Homo sapiens: one gene and its partners. The protein of the gene in region 1 interacts with the protein of each later gene in a pairwise test. Each region holds a gene or a part of one and is shown in the gene's direction. Other genes may lie near its edges.

The links.
Region 2: the proteins of ARFGAP3 (region 1) and BACE2 interact in binary tests that used the Homo sapiens proteins (3 or more experiments, as listed by UniProt).
Region 3: the proteins of ARFGAP3 (region 1) and alpha-crystallin A2 chain interact in binary tests that used the Homo sapiens proteins (3 or more experiments, as listed by UniProt).

Annotation. Positions count from the first base shown.
Region 1 is NC_000022.11:42,854,147-42,862,285, reverse strand, and holds the start of ARFGAP3 (ADP-ribosylation factor GTPase-activating protein 3), read left to right. Parts: upstream 1-5,012; 5' UTR 5,013-5,103; coding exon 5,104-5,172; intron 5,173-8,139.
Region 2 is NC_000021.9:41,170,588-41,178,337, forward strand, and holds part of BACE2 (beta-secretase 2 isoform A preproprotein), read left to right. Parts: intron 1-4,643; exon of another isoform or gene 4,644-7,750. UniProt on the Homo sapiens protein: Responsible for the proteolytic processing of the amyloid precursor protein (APP).
Region 3 is NC_000021.9:6,557,631-6,565,167, forward strand, and holds the end of alpha-crystallin A2 chain, read left to right. Parts: intron 1-2,441; 5' UTR 2,442-3,152; coding exon 3,153-3,341; intron 3,342-4,289; exon of another isoform or gene 4,290-4,385; coding exon of another isoform or gene 4,386-4,463; intron 4,464-4,570; coding exon 4,571-4,693; intron 4,694-6,124; coding exon 6,125-6,334; 3' UTR 6,335-6,859; downstream 6,860-7,537. UniProt on the Homo sapiens protein: Contributes to the transparency and refractive index of the lens. In its oxidized form (absence of intramolecular disulfide bond), acts as a chaperone, preventing aggregation of various proteins under a wide range of stress conditions.

The DNA of each region.
Region 1 (8,139 bases):
TGTGCGTATTCTCACTTGTGATTCATCATATGACTATGTAGCCATGTCTGGTTTCTCTTTAGGGTGGGATTTGGCTTTCAGCAAGCTCCTATTAAACAGTAAATGAACTAAATAAACACAATGCTGCTTCATTTGGCCATAGCTATGCCAGGATCTCTTCATGAAAGACGAACAGCAAAGAGAATTAGAATGCAAATACTCTACAAGACGGACAATACTGGGCTGGGTGGTGGCTCACCCCTGTAATCCCAGCACAGTGGGAGGCCGAGGCAGGCGGATCACTTGAGGTCAGGAGTTCGAGACCAGCCTGGGCAACATGGTGAAACCCCATCTCTACTAAAAATAGGAAAATCAGCTGGGTGTGGTGGCGGGTGCCTGTTAATCCCAGCTACTTGGGAGGCTGAGGCAGGAGCATTGCTTGAACCTGGGAAGCAGAGGTTGCAGTGAGTCAAGATCATACCACTGCACTGGGTGACAGAGCCAGACTCCGCCTCGAGAAAAAAAAAAAATGTGTAGCCCAGGATGCTCAAAGGGTGGGGCCTTCTCAACATTCCCACCATCCTCATGGCAAACCCCTGGATTGTAGAGGGATTCTGCTTCTCTTTCCCCTCCTTTTTTGCATTTGAATTTGGATTACTGGGTTTTATTTCTACCCCTCCCCTGGCAGCAACAGATCTTTGCCCATTCCCTGAGACAGAGAGAATTTACTGCTTTTGCTTTTTTTCTTTCTCTTTTCTTTCTTTTTTTTTTTTTTTTTTTTGTGACGAGTCTCCCTCTGTCGCTCAGGCTGGAGTGCACTGGCTTGATCCTGGCTCACTGCAGCCTTCCCCTCCCAGGTTCAAGCAATTCTCGTGCCTCAGTCCCCAAGTAGCTGGGACTACGGGTGTGCGCCACCACGCCGAGCTAATTTTGTATTTTTAGTAGAGACAGAGTTTCACCATGTTGGCCAGGCTGGTCTCAAATTCCTGACCTCAGATGATCTGCCCGCCTTGGCCTCCCAAAGTGCTGGGATTACAGCCATGAGCCACTGTGCCCAGCCTGCTTTTTTAGAAGAGAAGAGTCCAGAGGAAGCAGGTGGGGTCTGTGCCTGTTCCTGAGCAGCTGGATGCCCACCCCACAGAGAGGTCTCTCTCCGGGCTCTTTGCCAGTCCCCATCTTCCTTGTGAAGTACGGTTTCTGATGGAGGTTTATTAAAAAGGGCTTATGAATGAATGTGAACTCCCTTTGTATCTGAGGCCCCCAGCTAGTCCAAACTCACATGCCAACCTACACTTGGCCTTTAAGACTTCATTAAAATTATAGCCGATTTCCTGTTGCCAACTAGTTTGGCAGTAACCTCTTTCTCCTGCGCTCTGCCAAAGGTGAAGGGGTTCTTGTGTTCTGTCTTTGGAGAGGCTTCTGTTGTCTCTCTTTGGCGCTGAGGTTACTTGGTTGCCTTGCAACCTCAGCTTTCTGATGGGCTCAACAGAAGTTACAATTTGGTAGATTATCCAGCTTTTCTCATTATGATATTGGGAGGGAGAGCCTTTGTAGCTTTCTACATTCTAAGCCCATTCCACAAATCTTTATTGAATGCATACTATGTGCCAGGCATTATTCTAGGTGCTGGGGATAAAGTAGTAGAAAAAACAGGCTGAGCACAGTGGCTCACACCTGTAATCCCAGCACACTGGGAGGCCAAGGCGGGCGGATCACTTGAAGGAGTTTGACACCAGCCTGGCCAGCATGGTAAAACCCCATCTCTACTAAAAATACAAAAATTAGCCAGGCGTGGCGGCAGCTGCCTACAAACAGCTACTCGGGAGGCTGAGGCAGGATAATTGCTTGAATCCACGAGGCAGAGGTTGCAGTGAGCTGAGGTTGCGCCACTGCACTCCAGCCTGGGTGACAAAGCGAGACTCTGTCTCCAAAAAAAAAAAAAAAAAAGTAGAAAAATAGATCTGATTTCAAGAGATTTATATTCAATTGAGGAGAGGCAGATACAGATAGATAGAATATTATATATCATAATATTAGATGCCAATAAGTTCTATGAAAAACACTTAAGCAACTGACAGATAAGACAACCATAGTGTATTGGCCGGGTGCTGTGGCTCACGCCTGTAATCCCAGCTCTTTGGGAGGCTGAGGTGGGCAGACCACCTGAGGTCAGGAGTTCGAGACCAGCCTGGACAACATGGTGAAACTCCGTCTCTACTAAAAATATAAAAATTAGCCACGTGTGGTGGCATGCGCCTGTAATCCCAGCTACTCGGGAGGATGAGGCAGGAGAGTCGCTTGAACCTTGGGAGGCAGAGGTTGCAGTGAGCCGAGATCACGCCATGGCACTCCACCTGGATGACAAGAGTGAAACTCCATCTCAAAAAAAAAAAAAAAAAAAAAAATTAGCCAGGCATGGTTGCGGGCGCCTATAATCCCAGCTACTCAGGAGGCTGAGGCAGGAGACTCGGCTGAACCTGGGAGGCAGAGGTTGCAGTGCGTCAGGATCACACCACTGCACTCCGGCGAGACTCCTCAAAAGAAAAAGGAGAAAAAACATTTGATTTCAAGAAATATATATATATATATATATATATATATATATATATATTTTTTTTTTTTTTTTTTGAGACAGAGTCCCGCTCTGTCGCCTAGGCTGGAGTGCAGTGGTGTGATCTCGGCTCACTGCAACCTCTGCTTCCCAGATTCAAGCGATTCTCCTGCCTCAGCCTCTGAGTAGTTGGGATTACAGGTGCCCACCACCATGCCTGGCTAATTTTTGTATTTTTAGTAGAGATGGGGTTTCACCATGTTGGTCAGGCTGGTCTCGAACTCCTGACCTCATGATCCACCCACCTCAGCTTCCCAAAGTGCTGGGATTACAGGTGTGAGGCACCGCCCCCGGCCAGAAATATATATTTTTGTATTCAATTAGAGCCAGATAACATATAGATAGAATATTATATGTTATAGTATTAGATGCTAAGTTCTATGAAGAACACTTAAGCAACCATAGTGTATAAATGGTACCTCCTACCCCTTCCTCCCCTATTCGTGTAGATACTGTCTATAATTTACTGCTTTTGTTTCCCTCTCCTCAATCTCTATGGTGGAGAATGGGCTAGACTGCACTACTCTGATAATATAACTTAGTAAGATTTCAGCTCCAAGTAGTAAATGGGACCATCATTCCCATTCCCATCAGGAAGGATAAAACTGCTCATAAACATGCCCGGTATTCTGCATAAGGCCAAACTAGTACCCGGTGGACACAAAGCACAGGTGTTATACTTCGACTCAATACAGGAAGAACTTTTAAACCATCAGAGCTACCTGCAAAAGTAATGTACTTTTCTGGAAGATAATCAATTTCCCTTTCTTGGAAAAGTTGCAGCTTTGGGTTTATAAGTTACATTGTCTGCAAGCTCCCAACTGCCACCGAGGGTCTCCAAGCAGATAGGTGGAGTGTACATTTCCTGACTTCTAACAGTAGAAAGCCTCCACCAAAGGCTCTTCAGGATATCCCTAGGAAGCTGCTCACCTGTGCTACTCAGCACTGATTCTTTAATTTCTTTGTACAGATGAATAAACCATGGTTTATTTTATTTTACTTTTTGAGACAGGGTCTTGGTCTGTCGCCCATGCTGGAGTGCAGTGGTGCGATCTTGGCTCACTGCAGCCTCGACCTCCTGGACTAAAGCGATCCTCCCACCTCAGCCTCCCAAGTAGCTAGGACTACAGGCCCATGCCAGCATGCCCGGCTAATTTTTGCATTTTTTTATAGAGACGGGGTTTCACCATATTATCCAGTCTGGTCTTGAACTCCTGAGCTCAAGTGATCCTCCCGCCTCAGCCTCCCAAAGTGCTGGGATCACAGGCATGAGCCCCTGAGACTGCAAATAAACCATGCTTTAGAGAAGGTAAGTGTCTTGACCAAGGCCACAGAGCTAGGAAGCAGCTGGCTGAACTGGGATTGAGGCCAAGGTAGTGCCTTTGATGCCAAAACCTGCTGTCCTTCCTCACTATCACCCAACCTCTTTCCAGTGGCTCCACACCCATTGTGGTGACAGAGGCACCTTCTGCTGAGTGTAAACTCTTCTGGCTGGAATTGTTTCCCAGAGGGTAGGGTGCAGCCCCGAGGGCCGGGGTTAAAAGTCAAGCTTCTCATCTGGACTCATCAGTTCTGACTGAGCACTTCTGCCTCAACCCGCACTGCCATCTCTCCATGAACGTGACACAAAAGCCCTTGGTTTCAGAAAGCCAGTTTCCGGGCAAAGAAAGCTTTCCACCCAGGGCCTGGCGTGAGCTGAGGGCAAGAATTAAAAAGAGTCGGGCGCGGCGGCTCACGTCTGTAATCCCAGCAATTTGGAAGGCCGAAGTGGGTGGATCACCTGAAGTCAGGAGTTCGAGACCAGCCTGGGCAACATGGTGAAACCCTGGTCTCTACTAAAAATACAAAAATTAGCCGGGCGTGGTGATGTACGCCTGTAATCCCACCTACTCGGGAGGCTGAGGCAGGAGAATCGCTTGAACCAGGGAGGTTGCAAGGAGCCGCAATCGCGCCATTACACTCCAGCCTGGGGGACAGAGCGAGGCTCCGTCTCAAAAAAAAAAAAAAAAAAAGGGAAGGCCACCAGCTAAGGTCCGGCGTCAAGGCACGGGCCCTCCGTCCGTCTCGTGCCGAAGGAGGGCGCGTGCGCCCCTTCCCCTGCCTCTGACCTTTCCATGGAAGCAGCCCGTTAGGCGAAATGGCGATCGACCAGGCGAAACGTTGGTGGATCCTATGGCAGCGCGCGTGGCAGGCAGCCACACCCGGGCCCGGCTTCGCCCAGCGCTAAGGGCGTGGAGCCGCGCCGCAAATGGCGCGCGAGCCTCCTGCGCACGCGCGTGCAGCGCCTGGGGTCGGGCCAGCGGCGCGGCTGAAGCGAGGGCGGGGAGGGAAAGCGAGCGGCGCCTGCGCCCCGGCGGTGGACGGGCCCGGTCGTGGGCGGGGATTGGGGCGGAGCCTGACCGTTACGCGCAGCCCCGCCCCCGCGGCCTCGTCGCTCCTGCTGAGGCGGTAGCCGCTTTTCGTCGACTCTTACCGGTTGGCTGGGCCAGCTGCGCCGCGGCTCACAGCTGACGATGGGGGACCCCAGCAAGCAGGACATCTTGACCATCTTCAAGCGCCTCCGCTCGGTGCCCACTAACAAGGTAGCGGCCGCGGGCGAGTGCGGGCCTGCCTGGCATCCCTGCGGGAACCGGCGGGAGGCCCCGCGGGCGCCAGTGCCCGTGGCTTGGGAGGCGGGGCCGGCGCGGCCTGTGACACGTCGCACTGTGGGGCCGCGGCAGCCTGGCCGGGCCGGGGCGGGCGGGGCCGGGCAGCTGAGAGGCCCGGGCGGGAGGCCGCAGCGCGGGGGTCCTCACGCGAGCCGGGGAGCGTTCCCGGGGGCGGCGGCGCGGGCACACCCCCCGGCGAGCTCTTGGGGCGGGGGGCGAGCACCGGCGGCTCTGAGCGGAGGCGGGGGCGGGGGCATCCTCGGGGGCGCTGCGAGGAGGGAGCTCCCGGCTCGGAAACCCCGGCTGCTGGCGCCGGATGCGGGGAAAGCGCGGCTCCCCCAGCGCCACCCTGGAGCTCGACCCCGCCTGTTGGAGCCGGCTTGGCTCCTCGGGCCTTGCGGTGCCTGCCTCAGTTTCTCTTCTGATAAAGTTGCCGAGTAGTCTACGCTTTGGCTTCCAGCTTTTGTCGCTTTGGCCAGGGAGGCTCACCACAGCCTCCTCCCTCTCCTCGGTTCTCTTTGGAGATGGAGGTTTCCTTTTTTTTTTTGTCTCCAGAGGCTGTTCTCTCCCTGGAACTTTTACAGCTTTGCGCAGCTGGCTGGAGGCGTTGGGGTGACGCAGGGGGCTAAGGTGACACGTCGGGTCGGAGAGGGACTTGGAGAGTGCAAAGGGCTGTCGCGTCAGCGTGGGCTCTCCCCGCCCCTCCTGTGACACGAGTGTTGTCTGGTTCCCACTGTCACTTCCCGAAGGGAACAGCTGTTATTGAACCTCGATATGCTGGCATAGAAAGTTCCCGAGTGTTACAAAATAGGTGTTTCTGTTGGTTTTAAGTCTTGATGGTACAGGGGAGCCCATATTTTTTCCAGCCTAGGTGAGGAAGGAAACAGTTTATTGGAGGTGATGTCTGATGGATGTGGGAAAGTTAAGAGAAAGGCTCCAGGAATTCTCCAGTGCCCGTTTCTTTACTGTTCTCTTGATTTTCACATTTTTATTTATTTATTTTTTTAGAGACAGGGTCTCACCCCGTCACCCAGGCTGAAGTGTAGTGCCTTGATCCTAGCTCACTGCAGCCTTGACCTACCCAGCCCAAGCCATCCTTCCTTCCCAGCCTCCTGATGAGGCTGACACCACAGGGCTGTACCACCACGCCCAGCTAATTGTTATTATTAATTAATTAATTAATTAATTTTTGTAGAGACAGGGTCTTGCTATGTTGCCCGTGCTGGTGTCAAATTCCTGGGCTCAAGCAGTCCTCCTGCCTCCTCCTGCCTTGGCCTCCCAGAGTGCTAGGATTACAGGCATGAGCCACCATGCTGGCCTTAATGTTCTTTTTTTTTTTTTTAACGTTTTAATTTTAATTTTTTTGAGACAGAGCCTTGCTCTGTCGCCCAGGCTGGAGTGCAGTGGTGCGATCTCAGCTCACTGCAACCTCTGCCTCCTGGGTTTGAGCAATTCTGCCTCAGCCTCCTGAGTCGCCAGGATTACAGGCATCCACCACTACACTCAAGTAATTTTTATATTTTTAGTAGAGACGAGGTTTCACCATGTCAGTCACTCTGGTCTCAAACTCCTGGCCTCAAGTGATCCACCCGCCTCGGCCTCCTGAAGTGCTGGGATTACAGGCGTGAGCCACCGCGCCCAGCCTTGATTTTTAAATTTAGATTGATGTGTTTATAAAGAGTGGGTCCTGTGTAACTTAGTCAAGATTAGGATCTGCGGTTAGCAATGTGTAAACTATATTTTTTTGTCACCTTTATCTCAGAAACATCAACATGTATTCTCTTTGATTTAATTCAAAGATAATTTTAAATTAGAAATCAATGTCTTTATATCAAGAGGCTTTTGAGAGACAGGCTTGTATTGTCCAAACTGCTACTTTCTAGGTATGTCACCCTTGGACAGGTTACTTGACCACTTTGTCCCTTTTTTCCTCCTCTGAAAATGGGGCATGAACTAGACCTGACTCAGAGGGTTATTGTGAAGATTAAATGGAATAATCCAAGAAAAACACTTAGAGTAGGAACTGCATATAATAGTCTTCAATAAATGGCAGCTGTTTTTATGATGAAGAACACACCTGTGAAAAATTTATATTCTGTAATAAGATTAATAAAAGCAATGAGCAAAAATGTTTTCTGGTAATGTTTAACAGTAATGTGCTATATTTCTTGGTTGAGACCTTTTATTTGATCATTGGTTTGAAACCCTTACCTAAACGAAGATAACAATAGCATTTTAAAATTGGGGTCATAAAAGACAGCTCTAAGATACATGAGCCAGGAAAGGTAATCAAAGAAAAACAAGTCGGCTTACTTTTAGAACATGGTATCCAATTTCTTCGTCTCATGTATGATGATTTACTCTAGATCAAAGGTCATGAGGGTCAATTCTCTTTTTTCTTTTTCTTTCTTTTTTTTTTTCTTTTGAGACAGTCTAGCTCTGTTGTCCAGTCTGGAGTGCAGTGGTGCGATCTTGGCACACTGCGACCTCCTCCTCCCAGGTTCAAGCGATTCTCTTGCATCAGCCTCCTGAGTAGCTGGGACTACAGGCGTGTGCCATCACGCATGGCTAATTTTTGTATTTTTAGTAGTAATGGAGTTTCACCATATTGGCCAGGCTGGTCTCAAACTCCTGACCTAAAGTGATCCGCCTGTCTCAGCCTCCCAAAGTGCTGTGATTACAGGCGTGAGCCACCGCACCTGGCCAAGGGTGAATTTTCTTGTTTGTGGAAATCCTTCTTTGTTGCTATACCATTCCTTACTTTTATATAGATTGGGTTATTCATTCAACAAGTATTCATTAAGCACCTATGCTATGCTGGGCACTGTGTAGAGCATGAAAGGTATGTACACTGATGGTATGTTCCTGTCCTCAGGGAACTTATAGTCTAGTGGACAGATG
Region 2 (7,750 bases), on another chromosome or scaffold:
AATGTCTCTGACCACCAGCAGGGTGTCAGCAGCCGGCTAGAGGGGGCAGCAGTGAGGTGACTTCTGAACCTGGAGTGAGCTTTCCTGCTCTATTAATGGCCAGGAGTCATGCATTTATTCTCTGCTGATTCTCTGAAGCCTAAAATAAAAATTGCTTAGGTGGAGAGAAAAATGGAATTGTAAATTCAAGCAATAAATAACCAAGAATTTTTCAAGAATTAAGTAATAGTCATAGACAATGTCTGAAAGCTCAGTACGTGACAAGCACTGCGCTCTGTGCTTTAGGTGTGCTTTCCCAGGAATCCCCACCCACCACCCACCACCCCTCGGGGGTCTTATACGCATTTGGGGGTGGGAAAACTGAAGCTCGGAGAGACTGAATGACTTTCCAGGGCAACAGGGCAAGAAAGAGGGAGGGCCAAAAATGGAAGCCAGGGAGCTGAACTTCAGAAGCCAAGTTCTGAACCACCAGACAGATAACGACTTCCTTCCCTTCATGCCTCCTGATCTCTTTGGTTTTGGCCTCAAACTACCCTTTCTAGCCAGAGAACCCTGAACGTACACCCCAAGGTGTTAGGGACTTATTGTATGACTGCAACTGGACCCTCCGGAACTCCGTGCTGTTCCCCCATCTCCTCTTTCCTTCAGCACTGCTGAATGAGCAACAGAATGAAGGGCTGGATCCAGGTGTGCACGGGAGAGGCCTTGAGAGGAGAGGTTCAACAGGAACCAGAGCCCTCCAGCTCCCCTTCTTTTATGGGAAAGTCAACTGTTGGAAGTGTGCTTGTTCCCCGAAGGCTTTAATCAGGAACTAGAGGTCCATTGTTTAAAGCCCAGTGACTCTGTGAGGAGTCACAGGCATGTGCCCGGAAGCCCGCCTGAGAGCTGCAAGGCGTGTGTGCTGGCAGGCAGGGCCACGTTGGCATGGAGATGACTGCCAGGTTTGCGGCTGATCCCATTATGTGGGTTCTTTCGAACTGTAGAACTTTTGAACAGTTCTTTCAACCAGCACCTGCTTGAACCGTGCAATTTGGTCTTATTAATAATAACACTCTTCTAAAGTAATTATAATTACAGCAATTTCTATTATGAAAAAAGAGACTTTCATGTTAACACAATAACTCCAGCTGAAGACAGGAGAAGGTGTGCAGCCATATACCTTGTAGTAGCTTCAAAAAAAGCCTTTGGGATTCTTTTTCTGAAAGATTTTCTGTCATCTCCACTAACATAGGTAAAGCAGACAGCAAAACTATTCTCATACCTGAACACTTGAATGTAAAGGGCCACCTAATTATTTTGGCGAATCCTATTTTAATCATGGTGCATTCACTTGATTATCAGCCTCTTAGTACACAATTATTTGGAAGACTTGTATTGAAAATATGGATCCAGCATATGCAATAAGAGTTTGTGTTCTTCAGAAGAAGCCATCCAGGCTCCCCAAATGAAGCTGACTGTAGGTGAGGCTGAAAACAAGAAGGCAATCCCAGCAAGAAGAAATCTGATGGAGCCACTTGAAATGGTAAACTATTAAAGACAATGAGAAAAAACAATTACTGAGGTTGAAAGAACAAGAAAGTCAAAGCCAGTTTGCCACCAGCTCCTTCGAGTGAGAAGTGGCAGCTTCTGGGCTTTAGAGAAAGAATTCATCAAAGACTGTATTACAGAGGACTGGGAAAGGTGAGCCAAGAAATCAGCTTGAAACAACAAGGAGGGACAGGAGTCTGAGAAATAGTTTATAAGATCAAGAGCTGACCTTGATTTCTTGCTGATGGAGTGTTGGACACTCAAAGGGCACGTGAAGCCCTGTGCGTGGCTCACCTCATTGTATCCTTGCAACGTCCTGGAAAATGTGCACAACAATGTGACTTAATTTTCAGACAGGGTAACCGAGGCTTGGAGAGGCAGAGTAGTTTGTCCAGGGCCACACTAGTGAAGGCAAAGCAGGGTGGAGCTGTCAATCTGGGTCAGCCCAGCTCAGTCTTTGCACGTCACTGCCGTTCCTCCTTAGGTGCAGTGTTTTAGTTACAGTAACTTTTTAAGAAGAACCATCTTCATGCTTCTGGAGATGATGTGGTTTGACAGGAAGCATCCTGATGTGATTACAGGTCCTGAGCACTGTAGTGTCACACCTGTGACCAGGAGCAAGTGTGTAACCTCCCTCATCTTCCCTTTCCTCAGCTGTGGAGAATCAAATTTCTGCATTAATGTCCTGGTCTCAAAACAATAGAAACTTGTTCTCATAATTCTGCAGGCCAGAGTTCAAAAAGCAAGGCGACAGCAGAAACACTGTCCCTCCGGAGGCTCTGGGGGAGGATCCTTCCTTCCCTCTTCTTAGTGTCTGATGGCTGCTGGCATTTCTTGACCCTTGGCCGCATGACTCCAATCTCTCCCCTCCATGTAAGTTTCTGTGGCCAAATTCCTCTCTTCTTATAAGGAGACCAGTCATTAGATTAGGGCCTGCCCTCCTCTAACCTGACCTCATCTTTACTTCATCACATCTGCATAGACCCACTTTCTGAATAAGGTTAAGTTCACAGGTACCGGAGTTACGTCTTCAGCATATCTTTTGGGGAACATGATTTAATCCACAACAAGTTCATTCTAAGTTTTTCATTCTATGGATTTTTTTTCTTTGATTCTACCTCACCTTTTAATTGTTAATAATTTCAATTTGGGATTCAAGTGTAATTGTTATCACAGGCAATACACAAATGACGATTTTAGTGCTGTATTGATATGAAGCCTGCGGCAAGAGAGTGCCCTGGGGCTTAGGGTGGGAGAAGGAAGAGAGGAGTGTTTCTGCTTCCCTTCTGTACTTCTGTATTGTTTTTCCTGCTGGAGAGTAACTGCTTGAAAATTTAAAATGTCAGGCGGGGCGCGGTGGCTCATGCCTGTAATCCCAGCACTTTGGGAGGCTGAGGCGGGCGGGTCACCTGAGGTCAGGAGTTTGACCTGACCCAGCCTGGTCAACATGGTGAAACCCCATCTCTACTAAAAATATGAAAATTAGCCAGGCATGGTGGCTTATGTCTGTAGTCCCAGCTACTCAGGAGGCTGAGGCAGGAGAATTGCTTGAACCTGGGAGGCAAAGGTTGCAGTGAGCCGAGATCGTGTCACTGCACTCCAGCCTGGGCAACAGAACGAGACTCTGTCTCGAAAAAAAGAATTTAAAATGTCCCATGTCATGTTGCACTAATTCTAGAATTGCTGAAATTAATGTATAATATGAGAGAAATCCAATGTGTACAAGATTAGATCAATGATATTTAAATACCTATGAGTAATAAACACTTATGTTGGGATGGATGTAGAAAGCTTCAGTATTTCATGTTTTAAAGACATTATAAGGCAACCCCCTTATCAATCAGGATATATTTAATATGAAACAGGTGCTTCCCCCCATACTTCCCGCCATACTCATCCCTGATCTCCTTGTGTGATCTCCTTGTTGTAGGTAAGTTGGCTTCACCTCCCCTTGCCTGCCCATTTTTCCTTTTTCCTCCTGGAATGATCCCAAAATGATAAGGATAGCTGTTGTGATCAGTGGCCTTTTTTTTTTTTTTTTTTTTTTTTTAAACAGTCTCGCTCTGTTGCCAGGCTGGAGTACAGTGGCCTGATCTTGGCTCACTGCAACCTCCACCTCCCAGGTTCAAGCGATTCTTCTGCCTCAGCCTCCTGAGTAGCTGCGACTACAGGTGTGTGCCACGACAACCAGCTAATTTTTGTGCTTTTAGTAGAGACGGGGTTTCACCATGTTGTCCAGGATGGTCTTGATCTCTTGACCTAGTGATCTGCCCACCTCGGCCTCCCAAAGTGCTAGGATTACAGGCGTGAGCCACCGCGCGGCCAAGTGGCTATTCTTTTGTGGTGGTGGTACGTAGCTGCATTGCTCCCAGGGGTGGAGAGGGAGGAATTTAAAGGTGGTGTTTCTCTCCTTCTCCCTAGTATCTGACAGCATGCCTTGGGATTTATGTAACATCTCATTCATAGACTAGAGCAGGTCAAGCATTGGCCCCTGAATTCAGGGTCTACCTGTGCTGGAGAAGAGGTGGGGGGTTAGTGGGCACTGACTCTTGCCCCAACCCCACACTGGGTACAGCAGGAACGGGGTGGTGGTCCTCCTTGCTGGTGAGTGAGGTCCCTCTCCAGGTGACCTGAGGCTCCTATGACTGACTGTGAGCCTCTGCCTGTCCTTGAGTCCCTTGCTGTGTGTCATGGATCCCTCCTCTGGGTCACCCTGTTTGCCCAGCCTTGGTGAGACACTGGGGTTCATTGTATGTTAAGGTAACAGATACTACCCGGACAATAGGGCATACCTGTGAGGCAGGTGGGCAGCCTGGCACCCCTTCTGTAATTTCCCTGGGTATAAACATGTTTCTGGTGGAACCTGAGGAAGAGAGTGTCACCTCTTCTGGGTGACTTTCCTGGCCTGGCTCCCCTTCATCCTCTCTTGGCCTAGATGTACTAATTTGATATTTGACTATTGCTACTCAATACAAAAAAAAGTGGTCACTTTTTTGCTCTTAGAATTCTCAAAAGAAGAGAGAATACTCTGGGAGTGCTGACATTAACCACATAAAGGAAATGAAATGAGTGTGTTTGTTTTGTGCTAATGCTTGCTGTCCAGCCCAGGCCCCGGGTGGGATGTTTTCAGATTTTTATTATATGGCAATCATATACCTGCACCTAGAAATATACAACCTCGGCGCTGCCATTGCAGGAAGACAAAGAGACTGTCTAGAGAGTAACGTGGCGATGCCCTGGGCAGCTCCATCATTCCAGGGTACCATAAAGGGAAGTGGGAATGCACACTCCATCTGTTTCACGCTAGGCTGAAAGTGGCAGGGGGAGAATTTACACCTGGCCTGCAAAAGGCAGCCTTGTGTTCCCACTTCAGAGCCCCAACTTCTCCAAAGCCAGTGCTTGGGAAATGGCCTTGTTGGCAGCAGGCAGGAGACTGGTGCAGTGTGCCAGCTGTGCAAACCCCCACCAGACTGGTGCAGTGTGCCAGCTGTGCAAACCCCCACCAGCAGCACCCCCACCAGCAGCCAAAGAAAACAATTTCTAAAGCAGCCCCCAGGATTTCATGCCACGGGGGTGGTGAGGGGTAGGAGGAGGTGGAAAGCATTGAATCAGAAAGTCTTCCAGGTACCAGCAATGCCAGGGTTAATATGGTCTGGCTTGCTTTTCAGGTGAGCACCTGTAGCTGGCAGGAAAGTGGCTTCTTGGTGGAGGTGGGCATGAATTCCAGAAGCCTTGGAGAGACATCCAGAGCCCTTCCCACTACATCGTGCTGCCTCCTGGGGAAATTCCTAAGCTTTTTTTGAATCAGAAAAGCCACTGACAAGCAGACAGAATTGTGTGGCTTGCGCAGTGATTGGAGAGCTAGGTGCTTTGGGTACTAGTCCCAGAGCTGCTACTTGTCGAATGTTGGGTATTGGAGAGAAGTCATTTGAGCTGTCTGAGCCTCTGTTTCCTCATCTGTAAATCAGGGAATTTGAACAAGTGACCTCAGATTCCTTCTAGAAGCTCTAACAGTCAATGATATCATCTATTTCATTTGAGAGAATCTCCATAGCTCTAATTTTTTGCCCCCAGACCAATCTGCTTCAGCTTTGTGTGGGTGCAACACCTGGGGTCCTGTTAAAATGCAGAATCGGATTCAGTGACCGAGAGCAGAGCTGAGGGTGGCTGCTGCCAGCTCACAGGTCACACTTGGAGTCGTTGCTTCTTTCCCCAAACCAGCTGCCGATGGTTCCTGGAAAGAGCAGGAATACCTTGCAGAAGGGCCTAGAAATAGAGATTCCCATATGCAGTCCAGACTTATTGGGTGAGCCTGTCTGCACTAGGACCTGAGAATCTGCATTTTATTATATCCCTTGAGTCCCCTTTAAGCAGCCACGCTGGCCCCAGCCATTGGACTCTATTTGGAGGCCACTGCAGAGGCCAGATGCCCCTCTGCTCGGCGGTTTCCTGTGCAGAAAGGCTGTGTTCTTTCTTCTTCCTAAATACTCTTCCTAGGTTAAGTGTTTCCTTCTCTTTGCCCATCTAGAAAATCTCCACCTCAAGCAGGTCGTGTTCCAAAAACTCCTCGTGTTGGGCAAGTGGAAAACACGCAGTTTTTTCTAGGGGTCTCATTCTGAGGCGGTGCTGCTGAAAATCTTGGTGCTGAACGTGTGTTTTTGAGATTTCCAGTCTATCACAGGGCCACAAGGTGTAAATATCAAGAAAAATGAATTACTAGAAAGGCAAAGTGAAAAAGACATACAAAATACAAGTGTCATTCTTTTTATTCTTAGTTTGGACAGATAGTCCATTCTTCTACACTGGTCCCACGGTTTCTGAAGCTTCCTGTAATGATCAGTGGTTACCTTGTTGCCCAAGTAACTGCAAATCCCTCCTCTACAAAGTGTGCTTGCTCCAAGGCAGTGCAAACTAGAAGTTGTTACAAATGGTTCCAGTAACAAATTTGTTTGGCGGCCTTTTCCCATGAATGAGACAGTGGTTATTTTTGCTAAAGCAGAAAGGAAATGTGATACTATTGGGCTGTGTTTTGCCCTCTGGAGTAATCCTGCTTGGGGAAAATGGAGGCTTGTTCCAGAATGCAGAAATCCCTGTTAAATTAGGCAGTCTTGGGCTGGAGGACGTGTGCCTGCCTCCCCAGTGCCTCACAACTCACATCTCTAAAGGCCACTCAGGTGGGACACCATCAAGACATTGAAAATCGACAGAAGGAAGGCAGGAAGGGGAGAGGATCGAACCTGTCAAAATAGATATTCAGAAAATCTGTGCTCTAAAATAAGGCAGCCCTTCCCTCACAGCACACTTATTCCTAATTTCAACAGGACTCCTAGTCTTGCCCCACAGCGTCACAGCCTACAGCAAATTAGAAACTGGGGTGGGGGGCGGATATTATTCCACCAGTAATACCCTTGGGACGGGGCACACAAGATGTTTGCCCTCCTACCTCTCTGTCACCTTCCCAAGAAAGGGTCAAGATGAAACAGTGTGCGTTTATGGTATTGCGAGAGTTAAGTGAGCTGCGGTGTATTAGAACCTTAGCCTCGCGCAGCGTCAGCCGTGTGGTAAGTGTTCCATAAATCTTCGTTTAGAAAAAGTGGCAAATTCCAGGCTGCTAGTAAACAAAGGAGGGAAGACAGACAAAACGGAACAGCAACAACAGAAAACCCAAGAACTAGATGCCCAACAATCTGGGTCTGTATCTTGAAGGAATGTGCATCCTGTCCTCTGACTGCAAACCCAGGCCTTCTGTGGCCCCACGATGCTGCCTCCTAGCCCTCCTAAGGTGGGAATGGAGCTTTACCCCTTGGTGGCAAACAGACCTGGCTCCATGGATCTCAACCTGGGGTGATTGTGTCCCCACCCCAGGGGACATCTGGCATCCTCTGGGGACATTTTGAGTTCTCACAACTTAGAGGGTGCTACTGGCGTCCTGTGGGTGGAGACTGGAAGTGCTGCTCGGCATTCTTTGCCGTACAGGGCAGCCCCCACAACAAAGAACGATCTGGTCCAAAATGGCAACCATGCCAAGATTGAGAAATCCTGGTTACTCGACACAGCAGGTCGGCTGGCCTAGGAGTTGCTGCCCAGAGAGGCAAAGGGAGAATGTCCAGTGGAAACAGCTGCCCTGAGCATACAGGGCACGCTGACACCTGCTGATTCCCCCATCCTTAAGGTCCTGTATTGTTCCTAACACCACGTGGATCTTCTTGCCAGATGCATTAAA
Region 3 (7,537 bases), on another chromosome or scaffold:
CAATCCTGTGGCAGAGCCTCGACGTCCCACGGCGGCCTCTGAGCCGCCAGGCCCTACAGCGTGTGGTGAGGGGCGCAAGAGGTGTGAGTGCCTGGACCTTGCTCTGCCCCATGTCTGAGGACCTTGCCCTGCCCCGTGTCTGAGGACCTTGCCCCATCCTCGGCACCCAGAGCTGTGCAGTCCATAGGACCAGGCTGGTGCCCAGCCCCAGGTTGGTGCCTCAGCTGCCTCCTCAGCCTGCAGTCTCCACTGTTTGACTGACCATGTGCAGGGCCAGCTGTGAAGGACAGCACAGCTCCTCCCTCCCTGCCAAGTGTCAGGGGCACTAAAAACACTGCCATCAATGTTCTGATGTTTAAATCATGTTTTGATGCAATGTTTAAACAAATCAAAATGGGTCGGGCGCAGTGGCTCACGCCTGTAATCCCATCACTCTGGGAGGCCGAAGCGAGTGGATCACCAGAGATCAGGAGTTCGAGACCAGCCTGGCCAACACGGCGAAACCTCATCTCTACTAAAAATATAAAAATTAGCTGGGTGTAGTGGTGTGTGCCTGTAATCTCAGCTACTTGGGAGGCTGAGGCAGGAGAATCGTTTGAACCCGGGAGGCAGAAGTTGCAGTGAGCTGAGATTGTGCCACTGCACTCCAGCCTGGGCGACAGAGCGAGACTCCATCTCAAAAATAAATAAATAAAATAAATAAGTAAATCAAAATGAATGCAAAAAATTTGTGGTGGACAAACTGTCAACATTTTACATAAAGCCAGGATGAGGACGACGGCCTTCTCCTTTTGCTTCAAGCTCCAGCATGGCTCTGCCCAGCACTGACCGTGCTCCTGGCCTGGCTCGACCCTCCCCAGGGCCAAGCTCCATGCTGGTTTCCATCCCAAAGGACTCTTCTTCCCCCTCCCTGTGCCCCGGGAATAGGCAGCCAGCACAGTGGGGCCGCCCGCTGCCTCACCCAGACCCTGCCACTGCTTGGATGTTGACCCCCAGACTGGAAAGGTGGCTTTAAACCCCCTTCCCTTCTTCCAAGCCAAGTGACCTGGGTGTGCGGCTTAACCTTCTAAGCTCCCATTTCCTGGTCTATGAAGCGGGAATGATGCTGGGACCTGCTTCACAGGGTGGCTCTGAGGACCCACAGGCAGAGAGGTCTGGTGTAGGCTTTCGGGGGAAGCACCCATCACTCTCCCAGCGTTTCCTATCTGCACCTTAATTTGGCACCCCAGGGAATCGCTCCTCTGGAATTGTAACCTTGCAGGGCAAAAGCTATCATTTCAAGATTTTTTGGGATCCTGTGTCCCCGGACAGTGCTGTAAATGTAGGAGGAAGGGTGCTGCTCATGGGTGCTGCTCATGATGGAGGTGCCCCGTGGAGCACGCCTCGGAGCCCCCCCTTTCATCCCTGATCCCATCTGGGATGTGTCAGGTCTGATCCGCATACACTGGGGCATCTGACATTTCATGGCCTTCTGAGCCCATGGGCTGGAGATGAATTTGCAAAGCCCGGGAGTGTCCTGGGTGTGTGTTCACTCCACACGCACGAATCTGTTAGAGGCTGAGTAGGAACTAGGAGGCCAAAGAGAACCAGGCAACTTCCCACAGCCTGGACCGTACACTAGAAAAGCTAGCCTGGGAGAGGGGGCATGGCCTCTTCCCAGGCTGGCAGGGGGGATGTGGGGGAGGACCATGCTCCCCAGGGCCAGTTTACCAAAATATCAAAATACCAAAATATCAAAAGACTTAAAACTAGGAGTGAGCCAGGTGCAGTGGCTCACGCCTGTAATCCTACACTTTGAGAGGCCAAGGCAGGTGGGTCACCTGAGGTCAAGAGTTTGAGACCAGCCTGGCCAACACGGTGAAACCCTGTCTCTACTAAAAATACAAAAATAATAATAATAATAATAATAATAATAATTAGCCAGGTGTGGTGGCAGGCACCTGCAGTCTCAGCTACTCAGGAGGCTGAGGTGGGAGAATTGTTTGAACCTGGGAGGCAGAGGTTGCAGTGAGCTGAGATCGCGCCACTATATGATCTGGGCGCCACTCTGGGTGACACAGCAAGACTCCATCTCAAAAACAAACAAACAAAACCGGGAGTGCCTGGACACTTAGTGAGAACTGGACAGGGGCCATGGGTCGAGGAGCAAAATAATCACCAGGACTTGTGGATAACAGGATCATGTGGGTGGTGGGTCCGCATGGGTGACAGGGACGTGGGGACATGTCGCCACCCTGACAGGAGCAGCCCAACTCAACAGCCACGGCAGGTCATGCCACGGAGGCTCGAGGCGTTACGTGGGGATGTTACATCAAGGCATTACATCATTACGAGATGTAACGCTCGAGGCGTTACATCGAGGGGATGATGGCCATGGGGCTGGGCGTCCAGGGTGGGCCGCAGAGGGAAGCTCACCACGTGGTGCTCTCATCTGCCCACAGCCCAGCCCGTCTTCCTGTTGGAGGCATGTGACCCCTGGAGGACAAGCATGAAACGCCATAGGGCTCCCCCAGGTGCTGGAATTATGGCACCTTGCAGCTTCTTCTCCACGAGTTTTAACAAGCATGCGTACTTTTGTAAGTGGTGAGTGTAACGGAGGTTCACAGATGCACTCCGCTTTGGAAACCAGTGCACTCTTGCCCAGGCCCGGTGAGACTCTGACGACGATGTGTCTAACCTCTGTGTCTAACGGGGGTGTGGGCTCTCCCTCCTCTGGCGACCATGAGGACCACCCCGGCAGGACAAGGTGTGCAGAGAACTAGCATGGTCCCTGGCACGTAGCCCCTGCCCAGTGACTGGCAGATGAGAAGCTCCATTGTCGCCCCAGGCGAGTATGGGGCACAGGCGCCTCCTTGGGTTGTCTGCCCTCCCGGGAGCCCCAGGGTGCCCAGGCGGGCCTCAGCTGAGTCCAGGCCTCGGGGACAGTCCGTGCAGCCCCTCCTGGGGCTGGGGGCGGGCACTTGTCCCAGCCACGTTTCTGCTGACTGAGCAGCCTTCTTCATGAGCTCACGCCTTTCCAGAGAAATCCCTTAATGCCTCCATTCTGCTGGTGGCATATATAGGGAGGGCTCGGCCTTGGCTCCACACTGCGCTGCCCAGAGGCCCCGCTGACTCCTGCCAGCCTCCAGGTCCCCGTGGTACCAAAGCTGAACATGGATGTGACCATCCAGCACCCCTGGTTCAAGCGCACCCTGGGGCCCTTCTACCCCAGCCGGCTGTTCGACCAGTTTTTCGGCGAGGGCCTTTTTGAGTATGACCTGCTGCCCTTCCTGTCGTCCACCATCAGCCCCTACTACCGCCAGTCCCTCTTCCGCACCGTGCTGGACTCCGGCATCTCTGAGGTAAGACGTGGCCCGTGGTGCTGGCCTCTCCTCGCTGCTCAGAGGGTGGTGGCCTCGGTGGGTGGAGAGCGATGGACTCTGGTCTTGCTCCGTCAGGCAGGTGGCCTCGTCCCACTTCATCCCCTTGCAGAGGCTGGGCGAGAGCCTGTGTCCCCACTGCAGCCACGTGGTAGAGCTTCCCCTGGCACTGGGGAGAGGGTGGACAAGGGAGCAGCCTGAATCCACCTTTGCTTTCCTCCATCAGCTCATGACCCATGTGTGCTTTGTAAGGCACCAGCCACATACTGGAAACCCCAAGAGCAGCCCATCCAGGCATGCGTGGTGGCGAATGCCAGCTCCCGGGTTCCTCTGGTCTCCTGAGTCCCGGAGACCTGGGAGCAGGTGGGGGTCATAGTCCTGAAAGCCAGAGAGCAGGGCGTTCCTAGCACCTCCTCCAATGAGCTCGGCCTGCCCACGGCTAGCAAAGCTCTTGGCAAGTTTACTTAGGTGCCCTGCCAAGGCTAAAAGGACAGGCAATGGACGCCCCCCCCCCCCACCCAACCACAGGCCTCCTCTCTGAGCCACGGGTGAGCGGTGCAGGTTCTGCTGTTCTGGAGGGCCTGAGTCCCACCCAGCACCTCATAAACAGGGTCCTCCCCAGGGCTGCTGCAGTAGGCATCAATGCCAGGGTGCAAAATGCCTCAGGGAGCCAAGGCTGAGCCAGGGGAGTGAGAAGGAGCATGTGGAAGTGCGTTTTGGAGAGGCAGCTGCGCAGGCTGTCAGCAGGCTCCGGCCGCTTCTATAGACAGCATGACACCAAGGGCAGTGACCTCATTCCACAGGCTGAGTCCAGCCAGCCAGCCAAGCATCACCAGCCAGACGATTGACCCTAACGGACCAACCAACCCGTAACGACCCCTCCTACCATAACCAGTAGCCAGCCAGCCCATAACCAGCCAACTTATCTATAACCAGCCACCTGACCATAGCCAAACAACCAGCCGGCCCACCAGTAGCATTCAGCCCCTCAGCTGGCCCTGAGGGTTTGGAGACAGGTCGAGGGTCATGCCTGTCTGTCCAGGAGACAGTCACAGGCCCCCGAAAGCTCTGCCCCACTTGGTGTGTGGGAGAAGAGGCCGGCAGGTGACCGAAGCATCTCTGTTCTGATAACCGGGACCCGCCCTGTCTCTGCCAACCCCAGCAGGGACGGCACCCTCTGGGCAGCTCCACATGGCACGTTTGGATTTCAGGTTCGATCCGACCGGGACAAGTTCGTCATCTTCCTCGATGTGAAGCACTTCTCCCCGGAGGACCTCACCGTGAAGGTGCAGGACGACTTTGTGGAGATCCACGGAAAGCACAACGAGCGCCAGGTGAGCCCAGGCACTGAGAGGTGGGAGAGGGGGGCGAGTTGGGCGCGAGGACAAGGGGGTCACGGCGGGCACGACCGGGCCTGCACACCTGCACCATGCCTTCAACCCTGGGAGAGGGACGCTCTCCAGGGGACCCCGAATCAGGCCTGGCTTTTCCCCAAGGGAGGGGCCGTGCCCACCTGAGCACAGCCAGCCCCTCCCGGTGACAGAGGTCACCATTCCCGAGCTAATGTGGCTCAGGGATCCAGGTTAGGGTCCCTTCCCGGGCTGCACCCAGCCGTCGCCAGCTCCATCCCTGTCACCTGGATGCCAGGGTGGTCTTAGAAAGAACCCCAGGAAGTGGGAGTGCCCCGGGTGGCCGCCTCCTAGCCAGTGTACATCTTCACATGAACCCTACCTGAGGAAGCCAGTCCCCGACGGCATAGCTGCATCCGCTTGGAATGCTTTACAGGCATTGACACCTTCGCCTCACAGCAGCACTTTGGAACCAGTGTCCTCATTATTCCAGGGCACGGCTGGGGAACAAGGGGGTCCTCAGCCTGCTGGGTCCCACAGCTAGTACCGGGCAGGTGGACGGGAGCTTCTCCCCACAGTCACCCTGATGCCCCGCTCTTGCTCGGCTGGAGGCCTCGGATCTCCGTGGTGTTGAGGGAGCCGGGGCACTGGAGCCCTGGTGACCTGCATCTCCTGGCGGAGCCGGGAAGAGCTCATGGACTGTCACAGATGGACAGTGCCCCGCGGGGGCTGGAGAGCAGAGTGGGGCTGGAAGGTGGAACTCTTAGCCAAAGTCTTGGTTTCTTTTGGCCAGGGTCCTCTTTCAATGGCTGGAGAAGGTGGTGCTGGGGGGTGAACGCTGACCTCCTCATGTGCTGCCCCTCCCTCGCCTGGGCCCGGTAAAGCCCCCACGTAGCCCCAGCCAGCCTGGAACATGCTTCCTGAGCTCCCAGCTCTTGGTCTTTGCACCCAGTGGAGGAGGAGGTCAGCCCAGGGAGCTGAGTCTGCGGTTTAGGGCGTCCAGGGGACGTGGAAGCATGTGGGTCGTCTGGCCACATTAGGTAGGGCTGCAGAGACCTGGGCTAGAGCAGTCCTGCGGGGTCTGGAAGGGGAAGACTGGCTGAGGTGCGGGGCCTGGTCTGGAATGATCCTGCGATTTTGGAGTGAAGCCATGGAGCGGGAAGAGACAACCCCCCGCGGGGAATAGCCCGGCAAGTGGCCACGAGGCCAGGCTGAGGTCCAGAGAAGCAGGGGCATGAATCCATAAATCCCAGGGGGCCTGGCCATGGGATGTGCTGGCTGCACCCGGCCCCTGTGAGAGCCCCCGCAGGCTGGCCCCCTTCTGCAGTCAGTGGGGCTGGGGCAGCTTCTCTGGCATGGGGCGAGGCAGCCGCCTGCACAGTGGCCCCCCTGACTGTGCGCCCCCACCCTCTCCAGGACGACCACGGCTACATTTCCCGTGAGTTCCACCGCCGCTACCGCCTGCCGTCCAACGTGGACCAGTCGGCCCTCTCTTGCTCCCTGTCTGCCGATGGCATGCTGACCTTCTGTGGCCCCAAGATCCAGACTGGCCTGGATGCCACCCACGCCGAGCGAGCCATCCCCGTGTCGCGGGAGGAGAAGCCCACCTCGGCTCCCTCGTCCTAAGCAGGCATTGCCTCGGCTGGCTCCCCTGCAGCCCTGGCCCATCATGGGGGGAGCACCCTGAGGGCGGGGTGTCTGTCTTCCTTTGCTTCCCTTTTTTCCTTTCCACCTTCTCACATGGAATGAGGGTTTGAGAGAGCAGCCAGGAGAGCTTAGGGTCTCAGGGTGTCCCAGACCCCGACACCGGCCAGTGGCGGAAGTGACCGCACCTCACACTCCTTTAGATAGCAGCCTGGCTCCCCTGGGGTGCAGGCGCCTCAACTCTGCTGAGGGTCCAGAAGGAGGGGGTGACCTCCGGCCAGGTGCCTCCTGACACACCTGCAGCCTCCCTCCGCGGCGGGCCCTGCCCACACCTCCTGGGGCGCGTGAGGCCCGTGGGGCCGGGGCTTCTGTGCACCTGGGCTCTCGCGGCCTCTTCTCTCAGACCGTCTTCCTCCAACCCCTCTATGTAGTGCCGCTCTTGGGGACATGGGTCGCCCATGAGAGCGCAGCCCGCGGCAATCAATAAACAGCAGGTGATACAAGCAACCCGCCGTCTGCTGGTGCTGTCTCCATCAGGGGCGCGAGGGGCAGGAGGGCGGCGCCGGGAGGGAGGACAGCGGGGTCTCCTGCTCGCGTTGGACCCGGTGGCCTCGGAACGATGGGGTCGCCTGCGTCCCTTCCTTCTCCTGAGCTCAAGCGCCTCCCTCCACACTGGGCTGGAAGGAGAGGTTTTGGGGGCAGAGCCTCTGATGGGAAAGGGACTGGGGAGCGGTTCCGAGAGCTGGGGGCGGGGAGGGACCTGGAAGGGGCTGCAGGGAATGGAGGGAGGCCGGGCTCCTTTCTCTGTCCGCGCCGGCACCGGGGCGGGACGCCAGCCCTGGCCTCCTTCTGCGGGGCCGTCCGGTTCTCTCGGGGTCTGCTGGGTCGTCCTGTTCTCTCGGGGGTCCTGCTGCCTTCGGGGCTGGGCTTTAAGGGCACTCGTGCTTTTGAGGAGCTGGAACTCGGCAGCTTCCCCTGGGCAACCCATCATGGCCCCGAGCTGGAGGCGGAAGCTCGCTCTGTCCCCTCCCGGGACCAGACACTGGGCGGCCATGCCAGACCCCGCCACGGGGAGGGAGACTCGGCCTGGGGGGCCCTGGCTGCCTGCTGCGCTCACCGAGGGGCATCCGGGGGGCCAGAGGGCACCCAAGGGGAAGCAGACGCCACGGCGGGTGGGCCCTGCCA